Linked DNA regions of Homo sapiens. The protein of the gene in region 4 interacts with the protein of the main gene of each other region in a pairwise test. Each region holds a gene or a part of one and is shown on either strand. Other genes may lie near its edges.

Region 1 (7,578 bases), on a different chromosome or scaffold from region 4:
CATGCCTGGCTAATTTTTGTATTTTTAGTAGAGACGGGGCTTCACTATGTTGGCCAGGCTGGTCTCGAACTCCTGACCTCAGGTGATCTGCTCACCTCAGTCTCCCAAAGTGCTGAGATTACAGGCGTGAGCCACCGCACCCGGCCTATTTTCTTAATAGTACTAGACTCTACAAATTTCTGGTGCAGACCAGGCTGTGCTGAGGTCGTGAGCCCCATCTCCTTGGTCATGGTGCTTATGTCAGGCATGGGTACTCGGGAGCAGGGTCAATCTCGGGTGATCCTGGCAGCTATGCACAAAGAAGAGGGAGTTTGTTCCTCTGATAGATGGCCTTGCTGAGTGCTGTTTTGCCCCTGCAGGGTCCAGACCCACCTGTGAGGCAGACAGGATAGCAGAGGTAGGAGACAGAGACCGATTCCTGATGGCTTCTTTTGCTTAAGCCACTTTGAGTTGGATTTCTGTTACTTGCAACCATGCGCCCTGACTCGAGGAGAAAAGCTACCCACTATGTTGAAAATGCAGAATCATCACACAAATGGGCAAGTTCCACAGTCCGCAGTGTGATCCACCCCAAGGCCCAGGCGTCCACAGCAACCTATCTAGACTGGGACACCAAGGAGGAGAGCTGTCAAGTCAGAGGGGAGCAGAACTACCAGGGTCTGCACCCCATCAGCACCTGCAGCAGAGACAGACAGACTCTGGCGGATGCAGTGGCCAGTTCCCCGAAAGGAAGGGGGCTGTGCTGTGCAAGGCGGGTGAGTGCACCTCTACTGTGCCAGGCTTCCGTTCCCAAACCAGCCCTGCTCCCTCTGGCCTGACTGTAGGCTGACCAAGCGATCCTCTCATTGCCCATCTGTTCCCTCAGGCCCTGGATATGAAGCTAAGGAATAGGAGTGTCCTGGTCACTAGGAATGAACGTGCTTCCTGAATTAACTAAGAGCTCGCTGACACCCCATGTGGGTAGCAGAGATCAGTGCTGGGCCCCTCTGAGGCCGGGCTTCCTGAGAGCTCATCCGTGAACGGCGGACTGAGCTCCTAAATGGCCCACCCTCCGTTCGCCAAAAGGAGGTAGGTTTGGGGCCTGAGGGATGTGGTGGGTAGCCTGGTGTGCCTGCAGTGGCAGACAAGGGGAGTGGGGTTCTTACTGGCTGAGGTGCAGGCCCATTTCCTGGAGGGCTTGTTCCTGCTCCTCGCAGATCTTCTGCAGCTCTGCCTTCTCGTCCTGAAGCTCCCGCAACTCCTAAAATGAACAAACCAACCAGATGCTGGACAGAGGATTACACGGTCCTTTTTTTTTTTTTTTTTTTTTTTTTTGAGACAGGGTCTTGCTCTGTTGCCAGGCTGGAGTGCAGTGGCACGATCTTGGCTCACTGCAACCTCCGCCTCCTGGGTTCAAGCGATTCTCCTGCCTCAGCCTCCCAAGTAGCTGGGACTACAGGTGCCCGCCACCATGCCCTGCTAATTTTTGTATTTTCAGTAGAGACGGGGTTTCACCATGTTGGCCAGGATGGTCTCAAACTCCTGACCTCGTGATCTGCCCGCCTCGGCCTCCCAAAGTGCTGGGATTACAGGCGTGAGCCACTGCACTGGCCTTTAAAAAAAAAAAAAAGATTCAGCAACCAGAGCAACAAGCAGATCAGAATGTTTTTCAAGAGCAAAAGGTGGCCAGGCACAGTGGCTTATGCCTATACTTCCAGCACTTTGGGAGGCCAAGACAGGTGGATCACCTGAGGTCAGGAGTTTGAGGCCAACCCGGCCAACATGGTGCAACCCTGTCTCCACTAAAAATACAGAAATTAGCTGGGTGTGGTGGCAGGCACCTGTAATCCCAGCTACTTGGGAGGCTGAGGCAAGAGAACTGCTTGAACCCGGGAGGCGGAGGTTGCAGTGAGCCGAGATGGTGCTACTGTACTCCAGCCTGGGCGACAGAGCAAGACTCCATCTCAAACAAAACAAAACCAAAAAAAAGAGCAAAATGCAGTCCTGTATTAATGTCATTCAAGATTATTTCTTGCTAGCTTACTCTTGACACTGGGCAGCTAAAAGGCAAGCACTCGACGAGGGCTCTGCAGCTGGGGACAGAGACATGGGACAGGATAGTTACATTCATCAGCCACATTAAAAATAGTTACCCTCAGCTGGGCGCAGTGGCTCACACCTGTAATCCCAGCACTGGGAGGCTGAGGTGGGCGGATCACCTGAGGTCAGGCATTCAAGACCAGCCTGGCCAACATGGCAAAACCCCTCCTTTAGTTAAAAATACAAAAATTAGCAGGGCATGGTGGCACATGCCTGCAATCCCAACTACTCGGGAGGCTGAGGCAGGAGAATCGCTTGAACTGGGGAGGCGGAGGTTGCAGTGAGCCGAGATCACACCACTGCACTCCAGCCTGGGCAACAGAGCAAGACTCCGTCTCAAAAAAAAAAAAAAAAAAAAAAAAAAAAAAGTTACCATCATAGGACAAATGAGGCTTTGCCTATTTGAGCTTCTTTTTAAAAGATAAACATTTTACAAAACAGATTGCTATCTCAAAAAATCTATAGAAGAACTGTACACAAAATCACACGAACCTTGCATCAGCAAAGACTAGTTTGAAAGGTGGTTTCCTGTTCAATTCTGAAAAAGCTGCTTTTTTGGAAAGCACTGGTCAAGGATGATGAAGGGGGTGACCTGGGACCTCATTTCATGGCTAGACCACTTGGAGGCTGGCTAGACCATGTGAGGAGCCCTGCACGGAGGGAGTTCCCCAGGGGGCAACGGCACTGACACCTGGGGCCAGTGCACCTTGAGCCAGTCTGTTAAGGCCAGGATGGAGACCCAGAAAGTAACTGGGGTTTCTGGGACCACTGGGAGCAGCGGTGGAGCTCGGGCCCGAGTGGCGGGGTGGCTCTCTGCACACCCTGTGCCGTAGCTTCTGCTTCCATGCACAGGCTTGCAAAGCACAAAGCTGTGGCTTAACTGGGGTTATTAGACATTGTTTTGTTCCTATTGTTGGGGCGGGCTGTAATTGTGTAATTCGAATCTTTTGACAGAAGCATTCTGAAGCAGAATAAAGGAGGTATGCCCCGTGATGAGGCGGGACTTTCTGAAAGTCCTCTTCTGCCCTCCACTTCCTCCCTTCCACTCTCCAAGCCTGATCTGGCTCTTGAGGAAGCTCTCCCTTCCCCAACAACTCCAGGCACTTTCCAATGGAAATCAAAAGGGCCTTTCCTGACTCGCTCGAATCGTGCAGTGTGTCCATTACCACGTTCAACACAACAAAATCCAGGTCCAGAAGCCACCCTGGCCCTGAAGGCCCCTCCGGGGCAGGTGCCGAGGGGAGGTCTGCTTTGGGCTCAGTTTTCCTGCAGCGCTCGGCAGCGCAGGGGCCTGAGAAGAGGGCACGCCATCCCCACGTGGGAGGAGCCCCCCAGAGCGCCCCAGGCTGCAGTCAGCTCCATCCAGGATCGCAGAGCCTCCTCCCCTCTGGGAAAACAGCCGATGATTTTACATTAGGGCAAATGTTCCACACGGCCTCGGAGTTTCCTGGGAGGTCCAGTTCCACAGCCAGACAGTGAAGGCCTGCTGGACCCCACTTCTCTCGCCCTCTGAAGCCCACAGCATCCAGGCCATGCCTCCAAGTGAGAGGGTCCTCCATGGAACTGAGGTGATGTAGGGGAAGTGGAGGGCTGGGGTCGGTCTGCTTCCCAGGGATGACCCGACCCTGGGCACAGTGGCTGAGGTGAGGCTGGCATGTGGTAGGAGATGTTTACTGGTTCCTCCCAGCTTCCTCTCCTGCGAGCCTACCACCCACTCTCCACACAGGAGCCAATGACCATCCGCAAACAGAACGGATCCTGTCCCTCCACCAGCTGCCCACTCTGGTAAAATAAAACCCACGTTCCTTCCCCTGGCTCCCAGGGCCCATGAAGGGCTTCCTCCTGCCTGCCGCCTGAGGCCGCCTCTTTGCTCCTCACACTGCTGTCTGCTCCTGCAGTCTCCACCCAAGAGGTGCTTTGCAGGGCATAACTCACTGGAGCCTCTGCTCACCGGTCGCTCCCTCCCCAGGCCCCTTGCACACGGGTGAGGACACTGTTCTGCTTTATTCTCTTCATGGCACTTGCCTCTATCTGAGCTGCCAGCAGGCTTAGTGGTTTATGATTTGTCTTTGTCTTATGCTCCTAAAACAGGAGCTCCCTAACAGCCTCCCCACACCCTGGAGCCGCCTGGCCCCCACACAAAGGGTGCGGGGAGAGGAGCCTGCCCGGAGCATGTTAGGGGTTTCTGGAGGCTGCCAGAGGCTCTCCTCTCCCGGGATGGCCCACCTCACCTTTTTCAGTCCTTCCACTTGTTGCAGCTCCATCCTGAGTAGAGAGGAAGTGTCTTTCTCGTGCTGTAATTCGCGCTGAAGAGCCTGTCTTTGCTCTTTTTCTGATTTCAATTCTTTCTCCAGGCTTGAGCTGTTTTCCCAAAATGAACTTGAGTTAGTCTCAGTGGGAGACTTTCACGGAAGATTCACAACCCAATTCACCGCCCAGGAAACAGGGAAGTCTCTGAATTGCCTCTTGAGCATCTAAAGCCTTCGGCAACGCTTCCCTCTCCTCCAGGGTCACCTGCCCTTCCACAAGAAAGAGCAGGAACCAGGGAGAGAAAAGCCTGCAGGCACACACTTGACACTTACGCAGGGGAGAAGGAAGAGAGCTCTAGAACACTTAGACCACATAAGCAGAACCCTCCCGACATGGAGACCTGAGGAAAGGAAGCTCAAAATTCGTTCTTTTCTTTTTTTGAGACAGGGTCTAGCTCTGTCACCCCAGCTGGAGTGCAGTGGCGCAACCTCAGCTCACTGCAGCCTCGACCTCCTGGGCTCAAGTGATCCTCCCGCCACAGCTTCCCAAGGTGCAGAGATTACAGGCATGAGCCACCTCACTGGCCAATTCATTCTGCTTTTTGTTTTTTTTTGAGACGGAGTCTCGCTCTGTCGCCCAGGCTGGAGTGCAGTGGCACAATCTTGGCTCACTGCAACCTCTGCCTCCTGGGTTCAAGCTAGTCTCCTGCCTCAGCCTCCCTAGTAGCTGGGATTACAGGCACACGCCACCACGCCCAGCTAATTTTTTGTATTTTTAGTAGAGATGACGTTTCACCATGTTGGCCAGGCTGGTCTTGAACTCCTGACCTCGTGATCTCCCTGCCTCGGCCTCCCAAAAGTGCTGGGATTATGGGCGTGAGCCACCGCGCCCGGCCTCATTCTGCTTTCTACAACCTACAGCCAGACTGACAATGAAGGATCCTGGAGGGAGAAGGCCAGGAGGGAGCCTCAGCCTGAAGCTGACTCTGCCCTTTACCAGCTGAGTGGCCCTGGGGGCACTGCTGGACCGCCTGGAGTCTGCTCTCTCTTTGTGGGAATAAAGATGTCTCTTCTCTCTTCTCTCAACATCAGGCTTTTAACTTGGCATATATATTATCTCAAAAAATCTATAGGCCAGGCACGGTGGTTCACACTTGTAATCCTAGCATTCTGGGAGGCCGAGACGGGTGGATCACTTGAGGCCAGAAGATTGAGACCAGCCTGGCCAACATGGCAAAACCCTGTCTCTAATAAAAATACAAAAATTAGGCTGGGCGCAGTGGCTCACGCCTGTAATCCCAGCACTTTGGGAGGCCGAGATGGGAGGATCACGAGGTGAGGAGATCGAGACCATCCTGGGTTAACACAGTGAAACCCCGTCTCTACTAAAAATACAAAAAATTAGCCAGGTGTGGTGGCTGATGCCTGTAGTCCCAGCTGCTCGGGAGGCTGAGGCAGGAGAATGGCGTGAACCCGGGAGGCAGAGGTTGCAGTGAGCCGAGATCGCGCCACCGCACTCCAGCCTGGGCAAGAGAGTGAGACTCGGTCTCAAAAAAAAAACAAAACAAAACACAAACACAAAAATTAGCCGGGTGTGTTGATGTACACCTGTAGTCCCAGCTACTCAGGAGGCTGAGGCACAAGAATCGCTTGAGCCCAGGAGGTGGGGGTTGCAGTGAGCTGAGACTGCACCACTGCACTCCAGCCTGGATGACAGAGTGAGACTTAAAAAATAAAAAATCTGTAGATGAACTGTGCACAAAATTATATGAAGCTTGCATCAGCAAAGGCTAGGTGAAAGGTGACTTTCTGTTCAACACTGACAAAGCTGTTTCTTTTTAGAAAGGGTGGTTAAGGGTGATACAGGCTGTGACCTGGTACCATGGTTTGAGAGTGGCCAGATCTTCTGGAGGCGAGCTGGACCACGTGAGGAGCCCTGTGGGGAGGGAGCTCCCTAGGGATAACATACGAACCCTGCAGGGGTGAGTGGTGAAGCAGGATACCACCTGCCCCCCCGCCCCCCCTCCTCCCGTTCGTGCTGAAGCAGGATACCACCTGTCCCCAGTTCTTCCCAGTCCCTCCTGAGCCACACCCCAGCCCAGGCTCCCTGCAGGGCCCCTACCATTGCTCGTGCAGCTGGGAGAGCTGCAGCTGCAGGGCGCCGATCCTCCCGCCCAGCTCCTGCTGCAGCTTGTGGCTCCGCTCCTCAGCCCCCTGCCTCGCCCGCTCCGAGTGCTGCAACCTGGATGCGACACCAGCAAGAGTGCAAATGAAGCAAATCTTTGTAAGGAAAGGATGACTTTTGCTGGCTGAAATTCATTTTTAAAATTACCATACAGTAAAATTAACTCTTGTGAGTTTTAACACGTGGAGATTCAGCTCCACCACAATCAGAATACAGGACGGTCCCACCACTCCCAAAACTCCCCACCTCAGCCCCTGGCAACCACTCATCTGTCCTGCAACAATATGGCTTTGGCTTTTTGAGAATGTAATCTCAATGTAATTATACATTATATAACCTTGAGACTGACTTTTTCTCAGAATAATGTCTTGGAGATCAATCCAAGTTTCCATGTGTATCAATGGTTCATGCCTTTTGTTTCCTCTCTGAACGTCCTGAAAGGGCAGTGGTTCATTCCTTTCTACGGCTGAGTCATACTTCACCGCACAGACGTACCACTTTGTTTATCCATCACCCAATGCAGAACATTGGGATTGCTTCTAGCTTTTGGCAGTTATGAACGGAGCTGCTATAAACATATGTACTAGTTTTGGTGTAGACATAAGTTTCATTTCTATTTGGATCATATGGTAAGAGGACGTTTAGCTTCTTGAGAAACTGTTTTCCTGAGTGGTTGCACCATTTTGCATTCCTACCAATAAAGTATGAGAGATCCATTAGCTCCGTGTCCTCATCAGCACTTGGTATTGTCATTAAAGAAACGGTAGCTGGCCAGGTGTGGTGGCTCATGCCTATAATCCCAGCACTTTGGGAGGCCTAGGTGGGCAGATCACCTGAGGTCGGGAGTTCGAGACCAGCCTGATCAATATGGAGAAACCCCATCTCTACAAAAATACAAAATTAGCCGGGCATGGTGGCAGGCACCTGTAATCCCAGCTACTTGGGAGGCTGAGGCAGGAGAATTGCTTGAACCTGGGAGGTAGAGATTGCGGTGAGCTGAGATCGCACCATTGCACTCTAGCCTGGGCAATGAGAGCGAAACTCTGGCTCAAAAAAAAAAAAAAA
Region 2 (7,578 bases), on a different chromosome or scaffold from region 4:
AAATGATATTGGCAGTTTATTTTAGTGCTTTGTGCTTATTTAGCTCTTTAACCCAAATCCTCTAATAATGATCTCCTTAGAGAGTACACATACTCTTGGAAATGATTCATTTTTTTTGAAGGTCATATTTATTTATGTGGTTTCTTTTTTTTTTTTTTTTGAAGGGCATATTTAATAGCTGCTGCAAACATATGGAATAGTGCTTTAATCAGTGGTGAACAAGAAATTGCTGTTGTTGGTTATAAAAACAAGGGACATTAATGTTCTTGTTCTTGTACCATAGTAATGAGAAAAAAAAATAGTGGTTGAATGGTGTTTAATTTGTACAGTTTGTGTCAAAGTAGAATGGGCAGATATTTTGGTGGATAGGCTTTTGTCTTAGTTATAAAAATTAGGACATTTGGTATGATAAAGGCAGAGAATCTTAACAATTGGCACTGGCCCAGAAAATTCAGGGTGCAGTGACCATAGCGTGTTATGACTGCTACAGTAGGCATAGCCACCTCCTGAAGTGTTTTCAACTGCTTGATATACGGACTTTAGGCAGTTCTTGACTTGTACATGCTAATTCACTGCTTCCACAAACAGTTCATAGATATATGCTGCCAGATATTTAGTGTTGAAAACTTTTGCTTCTTCCAAATATTCATACAATATTCATGCTTTTACTATAATATATAGTAGATTGAACACTGAACCAAATGAGCTTGGGTTCAGGTACAGCTTGTGTAACAAAGCTTTTAGTGTTGGGCCTGTATCAAAGCAAGATTCTTCCCCCTTATTTGTAATTTCTATAGAGAGCATAGGCAAATTAATAAAATTTACTCAGTCTCAAAAGGGAAACCAAGTAAACAGAATGATGCTTTTGTGGAAAGTTACACTGTCCAAGTAATTGTTACAGGTGTTTTTAGTATCATTCTTTACATTTTCACACAAGTCCTAAATTGTTCATTCCTCTTTGCTACATGATACGAAATTTCACAACATACTGGTTTTTTTTTTCTTTTAACCAAATATTTGCAGTAATCCAATACAACATACTGGTTTAATACAAGAGCTTAGGTTAAATAAGTCTCATTATTACCTTATTTCCTTTCTCCAGTTCCCCAAAAACAAAAATAAGGGTATTACTCATGAATGGACTTGTTTTGATTCCTCTATCCGTGACTTAACAGTTTTTGCAGAATTGGATCTTTTGGTAGGAGGAGAAAATAGCTAATTTAGAGCATGGAACATTATTATATGGTGGGGGGGGGCATGGGTGGGAGTTTTTTGGTATAAGGGCTTTATGCACTTGGCACAAGAAGGGTATGGGAAGGTTGCCAAGGATCAGTCAAAAATGAGGAAATTTCTCTACTTTGTGTGCTTCATTCTGTAGTGATCATATACTCCAGATTCGTAGAGTTTTTCATACTATTCCATTTTCACAGTGAAACAGTTGAAGTGTGTCCTGGAATCTTTTTTTTTTTTTTTTTTTTTTTGAGACAGGTCTCAGTCTGTTGCCCAGACTGGAGTGCAGTGGCATGATCTTGGCTCACCACAACCTCTGCCTCAGCCTCCCAAGTAGCTGACATTACAGGCGTGCCCCACTACTGCCCAGCTAATGTTTGTATTTTTAGTAGAGACGGGGTTTCACCACATTGGCCAGGCTGGTCTTGAACTCCTGACCTCAAATGATCTACCCACCTCAGCCTTTCAGTGCTGGGATTACAGGCGTGAGCCACCATGCCTGGCCATGTCCTGGAATATTATTTGGGTTCTTTCAGTTGACTTCTCATACCTGGGAGCAGCACTATAATTTTTAGATGGACTGGGTTAGTTTCAGAGAATTGAGATGACAGCGTCTGTGGCCTCCTGTGACATGCACCCAAGTAAAGCTAAAATTTTTATGATTTAGCCATGCACATGATTGCATTAAGTCATGTTTCGTGATTGTTTAGGGATCCACCATTTAGGATATTGTTTGTGAGACTACTTTTGCAGTCTCGTCATCTCTACACCACTAACTCTCTTCTAAGCATGTCAGTACTTTGAGCCTGTTTACACTCTAGTGTTTATTTCTCCATGTTTTTCTCCATGCTCGTAAAATCATAGATCCATACATATGTGTATATATTTTATTATTTTATAGAAATGGTCTATGTTTAACTTAATATTTTGTGCCAAAGAATTGACACTTGAATAAGGTCAGTATTTTCAGTTATCTTTTCTACTAGAAATGGTCTAAGCAATTTTTCTCTTGGGAAAGAGATGATTACTTCATTTGTTTAGCAAAGTGTGGCAGGCACTAATCAAAGTGCTGGAGGGATATTCAGCTCTGCCTTGAGGGAGCTTACCCACCTAGTCACTGTATGAGGAAAGTCATAAAGTTTTAACTAACATTTGTAATACTGACTTATCGTTTAAGGAAAAGGCTCAGGGATAGTGACTTTCCAAGGACACGCAGTTAATGGCTGATACAGACAGCATTCTGAATTCTGGATCATACTTTTATTCTTACGATTATATCACATAATTTTAATTGTGACGCCAAGTAGAACTATAATGAATACCTGTATGATAAGAAGCAAAATTTATAAACATTTAGAATTTTGAATTCAGGAATTTTAATTTACCTTACAGTTTATAGTACTTATGACCCTAAAGAGATAAAGCGTTTTGAAAGTTGATAGGAAATTATATAACTAGATATTCCTATAGTTGAAGCAAATTTTCCCCTTAGGGTCTTACCTTTATCTCTAGTTAGATTTAATTAACTTCATTGACCTAAACTGTTTGATTTTAATGTTTGCCAAGACTTAAAATTTACCTTTTTATTAATGGTAGATAGGGTGATATGCCTAGCATAAAATATAACTTGGATATTTTAAGTTCAATCGGGGGAGACTGTTGCTTTTCTATAGAGATAAAGCAAACATTTAATTCCTATAAGAGAAAGTTTCTTTTCTTAAGAAAATAATTGCTCTTTTTAATTTTAATTTTAAGAAATTCTCAATTCATGTTCTTAGCTTATATTTGAAACATATAACATGATGAATGTTATTTTTAAAATGAAACCCTGCTGATCTTCAGTCAGATGTGTTTGATTTTTTTCTTTTTTAATAATAGCAGTGGGTTGCACCACCACTGTTCACTCCATTTCTTGATTACTCACAAATTAATATATTTGATTATCGCTTTTTAAAAACTTGATAATTGTTTTCCTTGGTTTGGGAGTTTTTAAAAAAGTCAATAAAGTTTAATATTAATGTTTTTTATCCAATTACAGGAGTCAGAAATACCATCAGAGGAGGGGTACTGTGACTTTAATAGTAGGCCAAATGAGAACTCTTATTGCTATCAACTTCTGCGACAACTAAATGAACAGAGAAAGAAAGGTATTCTTTGTGATGTCAGCATTGTGGTAAGCGGAAAAATCTTCAAAGCTCATAAGAACATCCTGGTTGCAGGCAGCCGTTTCTTTAAGACTTTATATTGCTTTTCAAACAAAGAAAGCCCTAACCAAAACAATACTACCCACTTAGATATTGCTGCAGTTCAAGGTTTTTCAGTCATCTTGGACTTCTTGTATTCTGGTAACCTGGTGCTCACAAGCCAAAATGCCATTGAAGTTATGACCGTGGCCAGCTATCTTCAAATGAGTGAAGTTGTTCAAACTTGCCGAAATTTCATTAAAGATGCCTTAAATATAAGCATTAAATCAGAAGCTCCAGAGTCTGTAGTTGTGGACTATAATAATAGAAAACCAGTTAATAGAGATGGTCTGTCTTCATCACGGGATCAAAAAATTGCCAGTTTTTGGGCAACACGGAATCTTACCAATTTGGCAAGTAATGTAAAGATTGAAAATGATGGTTGTAATGTCGACGAGGGCCAAATAGAAAACTACCAAATGAATGACAGTAGTTGGGTCCAGGATGGATCTCCTGAAATGGCTGAAAATGAATCTGAAGGTCAAACAAAAGTGTTTATTTGGAATAATATGGGCTCCCAGGGAATTCAAGAGACTGGCAAAACAAGGAGGAAAAACCAAACTACAAAAAGATTTATTTATAATATTCCACCTAATAATGAAACGAATTTAGAAGATTGCTCAGTAATGCAGCCACCTGTTGCCTATCCAGAAGAAAATACACTACTCATCAAGGAAGAACCAGGTAAATATTATCTATACAAGGATACTTCCTTGTTCATCCTAATTCTAGTTGGATATAATCTTGAAGTATATTTTTAATTGAATTATTTTAGTTATAAAGTAATACTAAAGTTGTTTACAAAAGAAGGGGGAACGTCATTCAAATGCATAACATATTTGGTATATTTTCTTTGTCTTTTTTCAACACATATATATGTGGGTTTATCAAAAGATGTATTAATAGCCAGGTATTGCATATATTGTCAAGGAACGTGGACTCTGCTGCATGTACGGGTCTTTGACTTTCCTCATTTTTAGCCTCTGTGCTCACTATTTTATACCCAGTGTTGGGAAAGATAGAATCTTTAGTTGTAATATATAATCACTGTCGTTTCAGAGACCCCCTTAACCTTTTTTATTTTATTTTTGGCTGTTAAAACATATTTAAGTGTTTCAAAGAATTTTGCCAATTATGAGATTATGGTATTCTAGTTTGTTTAGGGCTACTGTTCTTCTGTTATTTTTTGTTTATTTATTTTTTTGAGTCGGAGTCTCACTCTATAGCCCAGGCTGGAGTCTCACTGCAAACTCCGCCTCCCAGGTTCAAACGATTCTCCTGCCTCAGCCTCCTGAGTAGCTGGGACTGCAGGTGCGTGCCACCACACCCAGCTAATTTTGTATTTTTAGTAGAGATGGGGTTTCACCATGTTGTCCAGGCTGGTATGGAACCCCTGACCTCAGGTGATCTGCTTGCCTCGGCCTCCCAAAGTGCTGGGATTACAGACATGAGCCACCACACCTGGCCTAGAGCAGGTACTGTTCTGTTCTCACCATAGAAGCTATTTTGTTTGTCCACTGTCACCTGATTTTCATTCACCTTTGCATTCATTGCAAAGCCTCTGAGGCCTTTCTCTTCAATATATTTCTCTCCAAAAGTTCCGTAGGAATCTTAGAGAATCACATTTACAGTGGGAATTTTTTTAAAACGAGAAGACCATTGTTAAGTCTTTAGTTTAATCTGGCTGTGCATATCTTTATTTGAAGAAGCTCAGTGGGTTTGAGGTTTCCTATGCATGCCTGAGGCTTGTCCACCACTGTCATACATTATTTAATGCTTGTTTTTTTCACTTCAAAGCACTGTAACTGTTCAGTGTCTGATTTATACGATGGTGGTCATCTGAGGATGGAGTATTTTCTGTTAAAGGAATCACTGTTTTTAGTTGCCAGAGGGCAAAATGCCATAGTAATCCTGTGAAATGTTCCTCTGGCTTTTTAGATTTGGGTTAGCTTTCAGTGATAGGAATTTTGTGTATGTATGTGTGTGTGTGTGTGTGAAATTTTTACTGTGTGAAAAATCAAGTGTGTATATATAACGAATACTATATATCTTTTTCCTTGTACTTTATATCAAGTTTTAACAATAAAATCCCTGAGACAATTTAGTTAAATGAAGTATTAAGGGTAGATAGACTCCTTAGCTAGCACTTTGTTTTGTCTTAATGTAGAAGACCTTGACAGATTTCTCATTAGAGCTACGTTGTCTTTGTGCTGTATGGATTATTTCTGTTTAACAGTATGGTGGGAACCCTGTAGTGTTTTTAAATACACACACTTTTCCTTAAAGGAATAAATAACATCTTTTGGGTGTAGCGGTTGTTTGATGGTAACTAGTCAGCAGTAACCTCATTTAAAAAATTAATGCCACATATAATTGGAGTGATTTAAAGAAAAGCATTAATAATGAACCACAATGCATACTTTCAAAGATGACATTACTAGCAATTTTTATCAAGTATCTCCTAGCCATGGTTGTGTTAATGGACTAGTTCTATTATAAATTAATTGGTGGTCTAATATGCTTTATCTCTTACATCTGTTTTGTTTGTTTGTTTTTAAACGGAGTCTCACTCTGTTGCCCAGGCTGGAGTGCAGTGGCACAGTCTTGGTTCACTGCAACCACTGCCTCCTGGGTTCAAGCGATTCTCCTACCTCAGCCTCCCAAGTAGCTGGGATTACAGGCACATGCCACCACACCTGGCTAATTTTTTTATTATTACTAGAGACGGGGGTCTCACCATGTTGGCCAAGCTGGTCTCGAACTCGTGACCTCAAGTCCACCCACCTTGGCCTCCCAACATGTTGGGATTACATGGGTGAGCCACCGTGCCCAGCCGTCTCTTAAAAAGGATTATTTTCATTTCATTGATACCAGTTTGGTATCCGAACCTTGCTTAACTCACAAATTTGGTTCTATCCATGCCACCAGTGTTATTTGGTGGAAAAAATAAATGGGTCTCAAAAGAGCATTATGGTTAGGGTATATAATATGATATAGAACCAAGGACTGGTAAATTTTTACTGTAAAGGGCTAAAACAGTAAAAAAAAAAAAGACTTTCACCTTTGTTGGTCATAAAAGTCAGCTCATCAACTCTGCCACTTGTGACATGAAAGCAGTCATTTGTACTATGTAAACAAATGAAGGTAGGTGTGTTCCAGTAAAACTTGCCAACCCTTCGTATATAGCAGTGGTTCTTAATCATGGGTATGCACGTTGGTATCACTTGGGAGCATTACATGCCGTAAAGGGTCTCTCTTCTGTGGATTCCAATTTAATTGGTATGGAATGTGGTTTGGATGTGGAATTTTTTTTAAAGTTCTACAGGTAATTTTATGAGTTAAGGCTGAGATCAGCAAATATTACTATATTGGAAAGAGCCTAAATTGAGTCAAACATAATGAATTTAAAATTTAAAAATAAGCTGTGCCACCTACCCCCTGTAGTCCATGATCAAATTAAGCTCTTGTCCTCAGTTTCCTCATTAAAATATTGTGTTGATTTTATAGAATTATTATGAAAATGAAGTGACAAATATGAAATAACTCTTGGTCATGGCAATCCTCCTTAAACTTGGAAAAGACTATTGAGGTTATTCATATCAGTTTTCCGGTGCTGTGTACTTTCTACCAAATGCCAGATAGATGGTCTTAGCCTCAGCTTGATTTTTTGACTGCTTGTAAAGACTTCCCTAAGCAGCTTCCAGTGTAGGATGACTGATTATTAGGTAGTCATTTTAAATGTAGCCAAAATTTGCTTCTCTATAACTTCCTAATTCTGTCGTTGGGAATAGTGTAATTTATTATTTATTTATTTATTTATTTATTTATGTTTTTTGAGAGACAGAGTCTCCCTGTGTCACCAAGGCTGGAGTGCAGTTGCATGATTTTGGCTCACTGAAACCTCCGCCTCCCAGATTCAAGCGTTCTCCTGCCTCAGCTTCCCAGGTAGCTGGGACTACTGGCGTGCACCACTGCACCCAGCTAATTTTTGTATTTTGTATTTTTAGTAGAGGGTTTCACTATATGTTGGCCAGGCTGGTCTCAAAAACTCCTGACCACAAGTGATCTGCCCACTTTGGCCTCCCAAAGTGCTGGGAATACAGGC
Region 3 (7,578 bases), on a different chromosome or scaffold from region 4:
CTATGTCCTGCCCTCAGAGATGGAGTCCATAGAGGCAGTAGGCCTTGCTGAGCTGCGGTGGGCTCCACCCAGTTTGAGCTGCCCAGCCACTCTGTTTACCTTCAAGCCTCAGCAATGGCAGACGCCCCTCCCCCTGCCAGGCTGCAGCCTCACAGGTGGATCTCAGACTGCCATGCTAGCAGTGAGCCATGCTCCATGGGCGTGGGACCCACCAAGCCAGGCATGAGAGAGAATCTCCTGGTCTGCAGGTTGGTAAGACTGTGGGAAAAGCACAGTATTTGGGTGGGAGTGTACCGATTTTCCAGGTACAGTCTGTCACGGCTTCCCTTGGCTAGGAAAAAGAAATCCCCCGACACCTTGTGCTTCCCAGGTGAGGTGACACCCTGCCCTGCTTTGGCTCACCCTCGGTGGGCTGCATGCACTGTCCAACCAGTCCCAACGAGATGAACCAGGTATCTCAGGTGGAAATACAGAAATCACCCATCTTCTGTGTCGATCAACACTGGGAGCTGCAGACTAGAGCTGTTCCTATTTGGTTATCTTGGCCATTCAGTAAAGTTATTTAATTTAAAACATTATCTGAGATGATATTATTTCTACTTCTTGGTGTATAAAAATTGTTTTTTTAAATGAAATGATGATGATAGTTGATGAGATCTAAAAAATAAAAGGTTGATAACACATCCGAAGATTTTTTGAAAATAGAATTGGTCTGTGGGAACCACTGTTTTAGGGAATTTTGGTCATGTATAGAAATTAATGGATTATATATAAAGAAAAATTTGAAATTTGTATGTATTTGTAGACTTTAAGCAAACAGAGCCAAATCAGATCCTGTCAAAAGTTACTGATTGTGATTTATAATGAAATGAGATCTACCTATACATCATAGTGTTCTTAGAATATTAACGTACATTGTGAATAACTGCATATAGTTTCTGACTGAATATAAACCCCATCTTTAAACTTACAAATATATATAATACCTACATAAATCAAAAGTTTCAAGGTACATGGCTAGTAAAGATTAAAATGCACAATTTCTAAACTGTTTTAAAATGGTCTAATTTAAAACTACTGACTTACATAACTTTGGCTATTAATCAAAATATAACTTCAGGGATATTGAGGAAATGGTCAAGATGACATTTTCAAATAAGAAGTAGTGGGAAGTAAGAAACCTTGATGTGAGCACTGCTTCACAGTGTAAAACTGACATAAAAATTGTTAAGGAAAAAGGTATATCTTTGAAATTGAAGGTGACTAGATATGTGAATGCTGTAGTGCTGTTAACAATACATAAAGAAGGTTAAAATATATTCTATTACATGTGTTCTATGTATTCTATTACAGTGGTTCTATTACATTAAAGGTGTCTCAGAAAATTCTGCTACAATGTTCAAGTCCATTAAATTAACAAGTGACTTCTTTGCCTGGTAAGCTGTTTGTTAACATTTTGCTAGCTGTCAAAAGGACTGACAGATTATGCAGCTTTATTTAAATTCTAATAAAAATGCAAAGATCATTCAAAATAAACATATATAATTATGCACTGTGAAAAGCAGTATTGAATACTTCAGAAGAACAACACAAGAAAATTAATTTCACCCTACTGGTTTTTATGCACCTACAAGTCTCAGGTTGCAATGTCACAGATGATCTCAACTCAAGCAGGATTATTGTAAAGCTAAATTAGTTCAGGTGGTAACTTGACTGCCTCTTCCCCTTGCTAATAACTTTGCCTATTAACTTGTGACTGTGAAATGATTTAAATAGTATGGCCTCCATGAACTGATGATCAGTTATTAAATAAAAATGGTTTGCCCTACAGGGTAACAATGGTTCCCAAGAAAATGACTTTTTTGACCCCAAATATGGCATATGGTATCCAATCTAAAAAAGTTCACTGGGTTAATTCTACTTTTGTTCTAAACTATTAACATGATCAATAACTACATATTGTTTAGTTCCCAAAAGAAAGTGTTTTGTTTTGTTTCATGTGTTTGAAGTATTATTACAAGATCATTTAACTTACTTTTGAACTTTTTCATTGGCCACTTGGGAGGCCTCTCTGGCATGTTGAAGTTGTAATTCCATATTTGCTCGCTCTGTCAGAGCTTGTTGCAGTTGAGTAGCCAGTTCCTCATTTTGTTGTTGAGTGATGGAAACAATGTTCTCTCTGTTTTTTAAAGCTTCTTCATATGTACTAAGGGTATAGTTAAACTGATCCTTCAGATTTTCTTCTTGAGATAAAGATTTGTGTAAACTGAGAAAATATTAAAAAAAATTTAAAGATAAGTAATGTAAACTGAGTGATCTATGATCTATTTAACAAAAACCTCCATTTAGAATCTCTAGTTCTAAAAATCAATAAATACTTAAATGAGCAAATGAAAATAATTTTTATGTCACAACATTATAATTGATAATTTCTCTGCTTCTAGGCTGAAAGCTACCCAGACAAATGATTATGCTACCAAAGCATACAAAAAGATGCTGCAAGATGTTAATTTAATTATATCAGTGTAAATATTACATTCAATTTTCTTTAAAAGGAATAGCAGAGAACTGGAAAATAAAGTATCTCTAGGCAAATAAAAGAATGTAATAAGCTGAAAGAAGTGAGAAGAGAATGGGCATTGGTTTAGGAGATCGAGGGTCTATTCTGCCAAGCACTTAATGAGAATGGATGAGGTTTATGCAAACACTGACCAGCCTTCTACATAGCATTTTCTACTTGATCTTCTACTTGTCACAGTTGAGATATAAATGAATTTAAAATCACTAGTCAGATTGCACAGAAATAAAATGTATTCATATATACATGTGTATATTTTTTTTTGGCTAATGAATCTCTTAACGAATACATCTACTCATTAAGTCATACAGAGAAATAGCATATAAATTAAGACTAAATGAATGCAGAAGAAAATGCAGACAAATAGAATCCTAAAATGCTAAAGGTCAAATCTTTGATATGTCATTACACCTACCACCTGAGGTTATTTTGAAATGGCACCAAGCACCTCACTCAATTAAATAAAGACATTTTGAAAATATAAATATTTAATAAGAGAAATTTAAACTCCACACAGGAGATGTTCTTTTTTATTAAATATCATTTCAGTATATGCATACAAAGGAAATGTCGATTGGAGACATTTGAAGTAAAACAACTTAACTATATAATATAGATTGATAATGGGAAGGAAAGCAATATCATTATTAAACCTGCAAAAAGCTAGTTAGTGAACTTTGGCATTGTCCTAATATCTAGCCTGATACTTTCTTTAAAACTGTTCAAAGTAATTATAAATTTCCTCTTTTAGTTTAAGTTATCTATAAGCCTTTACAGTATGCTTATTTTGGAGAAGGCGTCCCATAGAACTAGGATGGATATGAAACAAGGACAGTCAGCATACCAAATGAAACCACTTCAGGATTCAAACCCCTAAGAATACGGACTGTTACTAAGCGCTGGTCAACTGGTTACTACACAGAAAATTAGAATAGTGTGTAGTGCCACATTTGTAGAGTGCAAAAAATACCTTTTTTCATGGTTTGCACATTGTTATTAATCTAACTATCCCTACTTCATTTCTTCTCAGATTTTTCTACCAACCCATATGCTTAAAGGCTGTCTCTTGCCCATTTTACTATTTTTTCTGTGTCCTCTCACTTTCTGCATTCTTGTCTGTTCCAAGTTCCAATTTTCTTCAGCTCACCCTCTTTATCTCCATGAAAGATGCAAGAAAGAAAGAAAGAAAAGAAGAAACAAACTAAAAGCTAAACCTTAAAAAAGGTACTTGTTTATGTTCTTTATATTTAAAACATTAGTTATATTTTAATTGTTAATTACGTTTTAAATTACACAAAGTGCATATATACAAAGTATTCAGCTTGAAAAAATGTGAAGAACAAAATACAGAACAAATGCAGAAATCTAGAAGACCCCCCAGTGTTCCCTCCCATTTTTTCCCCTCCCCAAAAGGTAAGTACTAATCCAACCTTTATCAAAATGTAAATTGCCTATTTTTAAACTTTTTGTCTGGCTTATTTTCCTCAACAATTGGTAAGTGAAGTTCACCTTGCTGTTGCATATAATTCATTGCTTTTTATTGCTATAAAATATTCTGTTATATACATATGCCGTAACTTATTTAACTGTCCACAGTTGTTGCTATGGATATTCCTGTACATGTCTTTTGATGGACCTAGGTATTCATGTGTAAAGTAGAATTTCTCCAAAGGGTATGCATTATTTTCAGATTTAGTACAATGATAATAGATGCTGATTTAGATTTAGATGCTGCTAATAGTCTTCCAAATTAGTTGTACCAATTTGTACTCCCATCAGCAAAATATGAGTTTCAATTGCTTTATATCCTCCCTCAGAATGGCACTGTCAAATGCTTTTAACTTTAGTTATTGTAATATGGATGCAGTGATGTTTCATTCTCTTCGTATTGTCTTATGTATGTGTATATTATTGATTGGTTGAGACAAGTTCTCACTATGTTTTCCAGGCTGACCTTGAACTCCTGGGCTCAAACAGTCCTCCTGCCTCAGCCTGCTGAGTAGCTCGGACTATGGGCATATGCCACCATGCCTGACTCTTAATGCTGTCTTTTGATGAAGGTAAGTTCTCAATTTAAATAAAGTTCAATTTATCATTGTTTCTTTAATGGCAATGCTTTTTGTAAACTGTTTAAAAAATCTTAGCCTACTCCATTCCCTTATATTTTAACTTTACATATATGGCCTAATTTAAAACTCAGTGAGACAGCTTCGTTTGGGAATTCAGCATTTGCCTATCATGCCTAAAGCAGTAACCAGTATACCGTAACCAATTACATATTAAGAATCAATGATTAGATCCCATTTGTCAATTTTGTCTTTTGTTGCCATTGCTTTTGGTGTTTTAGACATGAAGTCCTTGCCCATGCCTATGTCCTGAATGGTGATGCCTAGGTTTTCTTCTAGGGTTTTTATGGTTTTAGGTCTACCGTTTAAGTCTTTAATCCATCTTGAATTGATTTTTGTATAAGGTGTAAGGAAGGGATCCAGTTTCAGCTTTCTACATATGGCTAGCCAGTTTTCCCAGCACCATTTATTAAATAGGGAATCCTTTCCCCATTGCCTGTTTTTCTCAGGTTTGTCAAAGATCAGATCTATGCGGTGTTATTTCTGAGGGCTCTGTTCTGTTCCATTGATCTATATCTCTGTTTTGGTACCAGTACCATGCTGTTTTGGTTACTGTAGCCTTGTAGTATAGTTTGAAGTCAGGTAGTGTGATGCCTCCAGCTTTGTTCTTTTGGCTTAGGATTGACTTGGCGATGCAGACTCTTTTTTGGTTCCATACGAACTTTAAAGTAGTTTTTTCCAATTCTGTGAAGAAAGTCATTGGTAGCTTGATGGGGATGGCATTGAATCTGTAAATTACCTTGGGCAGTATGGCCATTTTCACGATATTGATTATTCCTACCCATGAGCATGGAATGTTCTTCCATTTGTTTGTATCCTCTTTTATTTCATTGAGCAGTGGTTTGTAGTTCTCCTTGAAGAGGTCCTTCACATCCCTTGTAAGTTGGATTCCTAGGTATTTTATTCTCTTTGAAGCAATTGTGAATGGGAGTTCACTCATGATTTGGCTCTCTGTTTGTCTGTTATTGGTGTATAAGAATGCTTGTGATTTTTGTACATTGATTTTGTATCCTGAGACTTTGCTGAAGTTGCTTATCAGCTTAAGGAGGTTTTGGGCTGAGACAATGGGGTTTTCTAGATATACAATCATGTCGTCTGCAAACAGGGACAATTTGACTTCCTCTTTTCCTAATTGAATACCCTTTATTTCCTTCTTCTGCCTAATTGCCCTGGCCAGAACTTCCAACACTATGTTGAATAGGAGTGGTGAGAGAGGGCATCCCTGTCTTGTGCCAGTTTTCAAAGGGAATGCTTCCAGTTTTTGCCCATTCAGTATGATATTGGCTGTGGGTTTGTCATAGATAGCTCTTATTATTTTGAAATACGTCCCAACAATACCTAATTAAAGAGCTTCTGCACAGCAAAAGAAACTACCATCAGAGTGAACAGGCAACCTACAAAATGGGATAAAATTTTCACAACCTACTCATCTGACAAAGGGCTAATATCCAGAATCTACAATGAACTCAAACAAATTTACAAGAAAAAAACAAACAACCCCATCAAAAAGTGGGCGAAGGACATGAACAGACACTTCTCAAAAGAAGACATTTATGCAGCCAAAAAACACATGAAAAAATGCTCATCATCACTGGCCATCAGAGAAATGCAAATCAAAACCACAATGAGATACCATCTCACACCAGTTAGAATGGCAATCATTAAAAAGTTAGGAAACAGGTGCTGGAGAGGATGTGGAGAAATAGGAACACTTTTACACTGTTGGTGGGACTGTAAACTAGTTCAACCATTGTGGAAGACAGTGTGGCGATTCCTCAGGGATCTAGAACTAGAAATACCATTTGACCCAGCCATCCCATTACTGGGTATATACCCAAAGGACTATAAATCATGCTGCTATAAAGACACATGCACACGTATGTTTATTGTGGCACTATTCACAATAGCAAAGACTTGGAACCAACCCAAATGTCCAACAATGATAGACTGGATTAAGAAAATGTGGCACATATACACCATGGGATACTATGCAGCCATAAAAAAGGATGAGTTCATGTCCTTTGTAGGGACATGGATGAAATTGGAAATCATCATTCTCAGTAAACTATCGCAAGAACAAAAAACCAAACACCGCATAGTCTCACTCATAGGTGGGAATTGAACAATGAGATCACATGGACACAGGAAGGGGAACATCACACTCTGGGGACTGTGGTGGGGTGGGGGGAGGGGGGAGGGATAGCATTGGGAGATATACCTAATGCTAGATGACGAGTTAGTGGGTGCAGCGCACCAGCATGGCACATGTATACATATGTAACTAACCTGCACAATGTGCCATGTACCCTAAAACTTAAAGTATAATAAAAAAAATATTAAAAAAAAAAAAAAGAAAAATTACCTAGAAAAAAAAAGAATCAATGATTAAGTTTTAAAAGTCTCACCATTATGAAAATTATGAGCATCCTGATTTAATTTCCTAATCACTCCTCACTTTCTAGTCTTCTATCATTTAATTTTTAGGGGGCAAATTTATACCTGATTTTGATTTTTCTCTCAGATGGACATGTTTGGATTGTACCCGCAAGTTCAAAAGCTGCTTAGCATTCAAAATACCTTGGAAACCTGTTAATTACCATCAAGGCTTTCCCAAGCAATGGACATGATCTTTTTAAAAAGATGGAAGTAGACAATGTCACTTAAAAACCTGCAATAGCATGTCCTTGCATTCAGAAAACAGTCTTTAAAAATAATAAATGCTATATGTTAACTCACTAAATGTCACAACTTGCATGAGAAGTCTTATTAATATTCCTTTTTTTACTGATACAAATGGAAACAGAGATAAGTAATTTAATACATGTAGCAGAGCCAGAATTTGAACCTACAGTCTTTATGTCTGCACTGGAAACC
Region 4 (7,578 bases):
TTATGACTGAAAAAATGACTAGTTATTATGAAGACACTACTGTTGAAGATGGATATTTTAACATGGAGTTTCAACAAAATTACTTCTTGAGACAGAGCTGATGTGTTTTTTAAATAACGTGATTTTAAGCATATATTTGAACAAAACTAAAACATTTAGTATTATGAATATGAAAAAAGATCAGTAAATCAATGTACTCTTCTAGGCTGAATTAAGGTAGACTATTTAAGGTTTCAAAAAAGTTTGGCTGGGGCAGAATAAGTTTTACAAAACCCATGCCATCCAAAATTAAGATGACATGTAGCAGCAAGAAGTATTCCAATGTCTCATAACCAGTTCTCGCAAGCAATGTGTATTCCTTACTTTAAGGAAGTGTCAAACAAATAGAAAAATCTGGAAGAATTTACTAAGTGTAATAAATTAGAGGTAAATCGTAATAAAAGAATTTATGTCTCACAAAAATATTCACAAGTGGGAGTTTTCTTCTACCAACTTCTCAGAGTCCTTCTAGCCCCCTCTTCACTTCTGAAAGATGGGATTTACCAAAATCTGGTTTACATTTAACTTTTCAGGGACACATGACCTGAAAAGAAAGATGTCAGATAATACTGACATTGCCTCATGCACTTTCTTTGTATCAGTCCTTCTTCTGTAAGTAATCAGAATTGGGTCCAAATGGCATAGAATCAAACATTATGTATCATGCCAAATACCACTTCCTGCCCAACAAAATTTCATTTTTCTCCAGTAATGAAGAGGTGGACATTCTTGTTGGACTGTAGCATCTGTGCCGCCCGCTCCACACCAACCACGGCAGCTAACCTCTGGGCATCATATTTGGAGTAGAGAACAGTGCAGGTCCACGTGGCCTCTTCTCCTCTGTTGGTGGCTCTCAGCATATTACAGATTTCACTGTAAAAGTGTGGATATGTCGGCAGTTCATAGAAAATCAGGTTCCTGATGCCTTTTATTGTATACCTGTCAGAATTGGAAAGAAAGAGCTATGTCAACTTGAGAAACAAGTTCTAGAAAAACTACCTAGGAGTTGTACAGAGGCATAGTTCATGCTTGTTGCTTCCTGCTAATGGAGAAAAACAGTGGCACAAGTAACAGAACAAAAGTTATTCTAACTTGAGGTGGCAACATATTTGAATTCTTTTTATGACAACATATTCGAATTCCTAATATTTGGCTTAAGAAAATGATAAAATAAATACACATTTCTTGATCCTACACTGGGTAGGCTGAGGTATCATGGGAAAGAATAGTAGACCAGGATTTAAAAATCTGTCACAGAAAACTTAAAAAGCAGGCACTTAAAATGGAACATTAGCCTTATTATAATCAGGCAAAAAAGAATGGAGACAAGGTCAGACCCAGTACATAAAATAAGTTGTACAGATTGTAAATACACTCCCATTAGTCTTTTCTTGCCACTCTGGATACATGTTAACTCCATGGCAGACGTCCCAAGTTCATCCATTTACAAAACCCTGCCCAAGGACCCACTAGGCATCATGAGAAAGCAATTAGTTTCAACAGCGTATGCATTTCCATCTCTTTCCCAGCTGCACAGTGCCGCCCTGTGGTGGGGGGTGGTGTACACCCAAGGGACTGACTTGCAGTATGGTTCAGTCAGGCTGACGTCAACCGTTCCCCTGTGGGATTCCATAACAAAAGATTTTATATGTTGACAAGCTTCTGATTTTTCCTGTTAAGTTTCTCTCATACACTGAAGACGTTAGACTCCCTTGGGGATTTTATTTCTTTCACAGAAGGTAAGTTTTCCTTGTCTTTTTCCCTCACAGCTCATCCTGATCTCTCTGGAGACCTTCCTTTCCCAAACCATGACTGTGATCTATTATGTGGTTCACCTTTCAACATCCTTTCCATAAAGAAGGAATTCTAACGGCTAATGAACTTGAATAAACTGTTCTACCTCACTAGTTCTCAAAACAAAAACAACACTGAGTTCTACTTCTGCTTAGAATGTATAAAACTCGAGAATATTGCTCCTATACCAATAAGAAAAAGTCAGATAATCTATTATACAAAAATGTTCCTTTTCTTGAGCCCAAAGAGCTACCATCATGAAGCAATCAGGTAACCTGAATTAGGTGGTGAGCTGGTGTATGTTTAATAATTGGTCCTCAGTGGGAGAAAGGGAGGGTGCTAATTTGAAGGATTTGTCAGTTTCAAGCTACCAATGTCATGCTGCTGACCCAGAGATGTGCAGCCAGGTCTCATGAGCCAGTGTGAGCCAGCTTCAGCTCACCATGGACTGAGTTCCAAAGAGTAGCCCTTCTGAGGAAAAACGGGACACAGGAACTACTGCACCTTAGGCAGAGCACAGGAGAAAGATGGCCTCTGCCAAAAAAGTGGGTAGTAAGAAAATAGATACACTTCTAACACATTCTTAAAGGGCAAGAATAGGCTTGCCTGACTTCAGGACCCCAGGGATCCCTGGATGCTCCTTTAGTTCACATCCACTCATGAGCTTGTTCCAGAGGCCTGCACTGGGAGCCCTGGAGAAAGCAGAAGACCCGAGGGAGACCCCACTGGTGGTAGGGACATGAAAGCCCACCTACTTCCCAGGCCCATTATCGTGAAACCCATGGTAAAAACGTGAAGCACACGGGGGAGAAGAAAGGAGCCACCCTGTCCCCCACCCCTAATCGCAGGCAGGCAAAGGCAAACCACTTGAGGGGGAGGGTGAGTAGAAGCAAAAGTTGTCTGCCCTTAAGGGAAGGGCAGTAAACCCCCACCCTTCCATTTGTCCCCCACACAAGACTTGTACCCAGTAAAAAGCATTCTGCCCCAGAGGAAGGGGTAAGAAACCTGTTCAGCCCAAGTTCCTGCACTGATACAAGCAGAGTTCGATTAGGGAAGAAGCTGTATACACTTCACCACAAAGATCCCTCACAGATAAAAGGTGGAGTCTGGCTGCCACGGAGGTAGCGGGGCAGGAACCCTGAGAAAACCTCACCCCCAAAGCTTGGAATAAAAAGGGCCTGCCAAAAATTGAGCTGGACCAGGAGAACCCCCTCCCCCCGACTTCATGCCTTGCAAGGAGAAACAAGAGGCCTCCTGTGAGGAGGGGTCTGAGTGTGGAGTGAGACCCTCCTCTGGCACACGTGTCAAGGCCTCAGTGACAGCTGAGCAATCAGGACACTGAGAAAAACCCTCCAGCACCCGAGACCCTACACCAAGCCCACTGTCTGCTGGAGGAATTTGAGGTCTGTGGTGTTGGGAAGGTATCTACAGTAACAATCAAATCCTGACTAGATTGATAGCACCCACACCAGTGGCCTACGGAAGGGGTGCGGCCGGACATAAGTATTATTTACTTCAGCCTCTACATTCCATTGAAAGTTATAGAAGACACAAAAAAGCAAGAAAAGACATCCAAACAATGAGGTATCATTTTGACTATCACATCAGTAGCAATAATTCAGTCTATGGAGCTTTGGAGAAATAGGTGAATGGAGCATAAATTACTTTGTCTATGAATTCAGGAGAAGATATGGAAAAGATGCAAAGGAGCAAATAAGTGGCAACGCATGACACATTTTTAACTGTGTACAGCCTCTGTGCTAACGAGTTTTCCTTTCAAAATCTATCCCAAGAAAATAACTAGGTAAGTATTTCATCAAAACATATGCATATGGATGTTTTGCGTATTATTATATACAACAGCAGAAAACAGAAAAAAAACCCCTATATGCCCACTAAAAGGAAGCTAGCTTAATTAACCAATGTAATACTATGTAGCCATTAAAAACAATGTGATGTTTACCTCACACGTTACTTATTAATTACATACACACACTAAGTGATTTTAGTGATTTGGCATCACCAAGAATGAGACAAAGTGACATTACGTGCCTTCTGATGAGATGAGGTAGAAAGTACGTAATATTCCCTAAGTAGAATTCTTATCAAAAGATATTTATTCTAAATCAGTCATCCCCAAACTGCTGCACATTGAAATCACCTAGCTGGTTGTTTTTTTATTTTTTTTATTAATACTTAGGTTTGGTCCCCATCCCAGACACTGCGATTTAATTGGTACTGGGATGTGACCTGGGCATTTGGATTTTTAAAAGCTTCTATTCTAACGTACGGCAAAGTTTGAGAACCACTGATCTAAATAACAAGGGAACAATTAGATAAATCCAGACTGTGAGACATACTGCAGGAAACCAGATTGGACTCTTCAAAAAGATGTCGATGTCATGAAAAAGTAAAAAAGCAAGAGAGTTATTCTGGATGAGGGTTTCTCAGTGTTAACACTGCTGACATTTTGAGACAGATAATTCTTTGTGGTTGGGGGCTGTCCTGTGAACGAAGGTGTTTCACAGCATCACTGGTCTCAACCCACTGGAACCACCAGAATAATCCTCCAGTTGTGATAACCAAAAATGTCTCCAGATATTGCCAAATGTCCCTGAGGGAGCAAAATTGTTCCCCAATTGAGAACTAAACTAGATTAAAGAAACAAAAGCAGTAAGTTAACCAAATGCTATATATGATCCTTACTGAATCCTTTTTGGCCGGAGGGGAAAGAGCTATAATGGTCATTTTGGTGACAACTAGCAAAATCTGAATATAGACTAGATATCAGATGATATTACTGTAGTAACATCAGGTAGCATGATAATGGTGCTATGGTTAGATAAAAGAATGTTTTTGTTTTTAGGAGCTACATGCTAAAATATTTAGGGGTGAAGTGTCAATGAAGACTCACGCTACTTTACTTTCAAATGGTTCAGGAAGAAAAAATAAGAGATGTGAGTGGGGATAGAGAGAAGATGGGTATGTGCAAATGTGATAAAATGAGAACAGCTGGTGGAATTTGGGGTAAAAGCATTTATAAATAAACAGATGTTTATTGTTAGTCTCTTAACAATTTTCTTTCACAATGAAATCTTTTCAAATAAAAACCTGGGGGAAGAGAGGATGTCGTAGAGCTATATATAGTAACTTAAAAATATACACAAAAATCCACAATATACAAATATACAGGCCAAAATGTTAGTCTTTGAATTTTTTTAAATGAGCACATAAAACATCTAAGACAAAGGAAAAAAAAATCCTTAAAACAAAAAAAGATCCTAATTTTAGTATTGTTTTTTAAAAAAACACGTGTGTGTGTGCACGTGTGCATGTGCACACATTTTTCACATAAAAAAGATGGAAAAAAATTACCAAAAAGAGTATTTATATCAGGGCAGTGAGATTTTTAACCTAAAATTTCCAATATCTCTACAATAACTGTGAAATACCCTCACAATCAGGAAAAACAAAACAATAAAACTGTTAAGTGTTATATTAAACACACACACATGAAAATCTGTCTCAGTCCCAATGCAACCACAATAGAGACTGAGTATCTCCTGGCAACAGAGAACATGGCCAGGGCCTCTTCCAAGGGGCAGTTAGTGGCAAGTCTCCATAGCTTGAGCACCCCTTACCCTGCCTTCCTCCTCCCTTATATATGCTTTGTTTTCAGTGACTCCTACAAACACAGCCTAATCACCCTTACAGTACCTTCCACATGTCTATTTCACGAGCCACTGTTAAAGACAAATGAGGCAACCACAATGAACTTGAAAGACTGGCTCCTTCCTACGGTCCATAAAGACCAAGTCTACTACTTCTAGAACTGGGATTCTCCTGTAGGGGAAGGGAGTAATCAGAAATTCCCAGCAGCCTTTCCAAACTCCACAAATCCCACCTCCAGTTTCTGACTTGCCTCCTGGTTGAGATCCTCCCTGCTGTGGAAACCCACTGATAACGCACTGGAAAAGAGCTGTGACCCATCACTGGGAGGGCAATCATGACCAAATGTTCATCCAATTCTAAGATTCTGCTAGTTTAATCTTCCCCACATAAAACAAATCTTCAGGTTAAAAAATTTTTGCTAACTCAAAAATGAATTCTAATCTTCCTAACATTGCCAGCTGTCATAGAGAATATAAAAACAGAGTCAGATACTACAATATAAAATACATGTACATTTTCTGGCCGGGCACGGTGGCTCATGCCTGTAACCCCAACACTTCTTGGGAGGCTGAAGTGCGCAGATCACATGAGGCCAGGAGTTCAAGACCAGCCTGGCCAACATGGCAAAACCTCGTCTACTAAAAATACAAAAATCAGCCAGGCGTGGTGATGCAATTCTGTAATCCCAGCTACTCAGGAGGCTGAGTCACGAGAATTGCTTGAACCCAAGAGGCAGACGCTGCAGCGGGCCGAGATCACACCACTGCACTCCAGCCTGAGCAACAAAGTGAGACTGTCTTAAAAAAAAAAAAAGAAAAAGAAAAAGAAAAAAAAAGTACTTATTCTAAGGTCAAATTAAAAAAAAAAAAATCACAAAGGCACTGCACACCAAAACATCCATCATCACCTTGGTGATCTCTCGAGCAAAAAATTCTATAGCTGGAAACCTTGAGATAATTAGCTGTTGCAGAACTCTAAAGCACATTATTTTCATTCATCTTCTACAAAAGAAACACCAATTAACCTGGCCCAGGGCATAAAGCAAATGGCATATGCTGAGATTTGTCCTTATCGTGACTTTGAGGGCAACATGGCTTGGTAAATAGACAGTGTAATACAGGAGACTGTCCTGCTTACAAAGGGCTCCATGCCCTGTCCTTGAAAAGCTGCTGAGATATTAAAGAGCTTAATTCCCATCCCAGCTTAATTCACAGTTGCCATAGACAATCACACTGGGAAGTTTTCCAATCCATCCACTTCACTTAAAGGGCTTGCTTTCATTTGTCAAGATGATAGAAAGCTAAGAGCTTTTAAGACCTGATGAGTGCAACTTCCCCAAATACTTTCCAACATGAATGGAAACGACAACTTACTGGAACAGAGCAAATAATGAGGGCAACAAGCAGGCATTCATTAACACTCTTTGGCCAAGCAGCCTTCTCTGGGTAGCCAAGAATGGAGCCTGGGAAACACAAATTTAATCAATCCTCAACTCTCTAAGAGGTCATGCCATGCCAGCTTTGCTATGCCTAGGCAAGCTGCTGGGACGCCTCCCTCCCCATCCTGGGAACAAGGACGTTATCTGGGGAGCACCATCCTAATCGTTTTAGCATAAACTAAAAGGTAATGCAATGCCAAAGTGCATCATCTAATGTGCTCCAAAGCTTGGGAGATTTCTGGCGTATCTGTTTAGGATTCTCTGAGAAAATGCACCCATTGTGAGTTAATAAAACAGTAAAGTCAGAACTTAAATCCACTGGACATTATTGTGAAATCAGGATGAGGTAACAGAATGTAATTTACATAACTCTACAGGCAAGGGTTAAAAAAAGCCTTTTACATATTATGCAACCATGAAAATTGAAAATAAAAATCTAAAAAATAAAAAAGCTTTTTCTATTTATCAACAGAGAGAGACTTAGCAAAACAATAAAATACATGAGCTCTAGGGCCAGAAGGGCCGCCACTATCCCAAACAGTAATAGAAGGCTCAGTATTACTAACCCTCTAATTAGAGTTGGTTTTTTTTTTTTTTTTTTTTTTTGAGATGGAGTTTCGCTCTTGTTGCCCAAG

The links.
Region 1: the proteins of UTP25 (region 4) and RUFY1 interact in binary tests that used the Homo sapiens proteins (3 or more experiments, as listed by UniProt).
Region 2: the proteins of UTP25 (region 4) and ZBTB10 interact in binary tests that used the Homo sapiens proteins (3 or more experiments, as listed by UniProt).
Region 3: the proteins of UTP25 (region 4) and MIPOL1 interact in binary tests that used the Homo sapiens proteins (3 or more experiments, as listed by UniProt).

Annotation. Positions count from the first base shown.
Region 1 is NC_000005.10:179,595,554-179,603,131, reverse strand, and holds part of RUFY1 (RUN and FYVE domain-containing protein 1), read right to left. Parts: intron 7,229-7,578; exon of another isoform or gene 6,571-7,228; coding exon 6,451-6,570; intron 6,311-6,450; exon of another isoform or gene 6,171-6,310; intron 4,880-6,170; exon of another isoform or gene 4,777-4,879; intron 4,441-4,776; coding exon 4,311-4,440; intron 3,865-4,310; exon of another isoform or gene 3,743-3,864; intron 3,648-3,742; exon of another isoform or gene 3,497-3,647; intron 3,060-3,496; exon of another isoform or gene 3,034-3,059; intron 1,241-3,033; coding exon 1,146-1,240; intron 1,069-1,145; exon of another isoform or gene 866-1,068; intron 756-865; exon of another isoform or gene 360-755; intron 1-359. UniProt on the Homo sapiens protein: Activating adapter involved in cargo sorting from early/recycling endosomes. Regulates retrieval of proteins from endosomes to the trans-Golgi network through interaction with the dynein-dynactin complex.
Region 2 is NC_000008.11:80,496,226-80,503,803, forward strand, and holds part of ZBTB10 (zinc finger and BTB domain-containing protein 10), read left to right. Parts: intron 1-3,268; coding exon 3,269-4,157; intron 4,158-7,578. UniProt on the Homo sapiens protein: May be involved in transcriptional regulation.
Region 3 is NC_000014.9:37,494,596-37,502,173, reverse strand, and holds part of MIPOL1 (mirror-image polydactyly gene 1 protein), read right to left. Parts: intron 2,267-7,578; coding exon 2,036-2,266; intron 1-2,035.
Region 4 is NC_000001.11:209,844,604-209,852,181, reverse strand, and holds part of UTP25 (U3 small nucleolar RNA-associated protein 25 homolog), read right to left. Parts: intron 979-7,578; coding exon 735-978; 3' UTR 1-734. UniProt on the Homo sapiens protein: Component of the ribosomal small subunit processome for the biogenesis of ribosomes, functions in pre-ribosomal RNA (pre-rRNA) processing. Essential for embryonic development in part through the regulation of p53 pathway.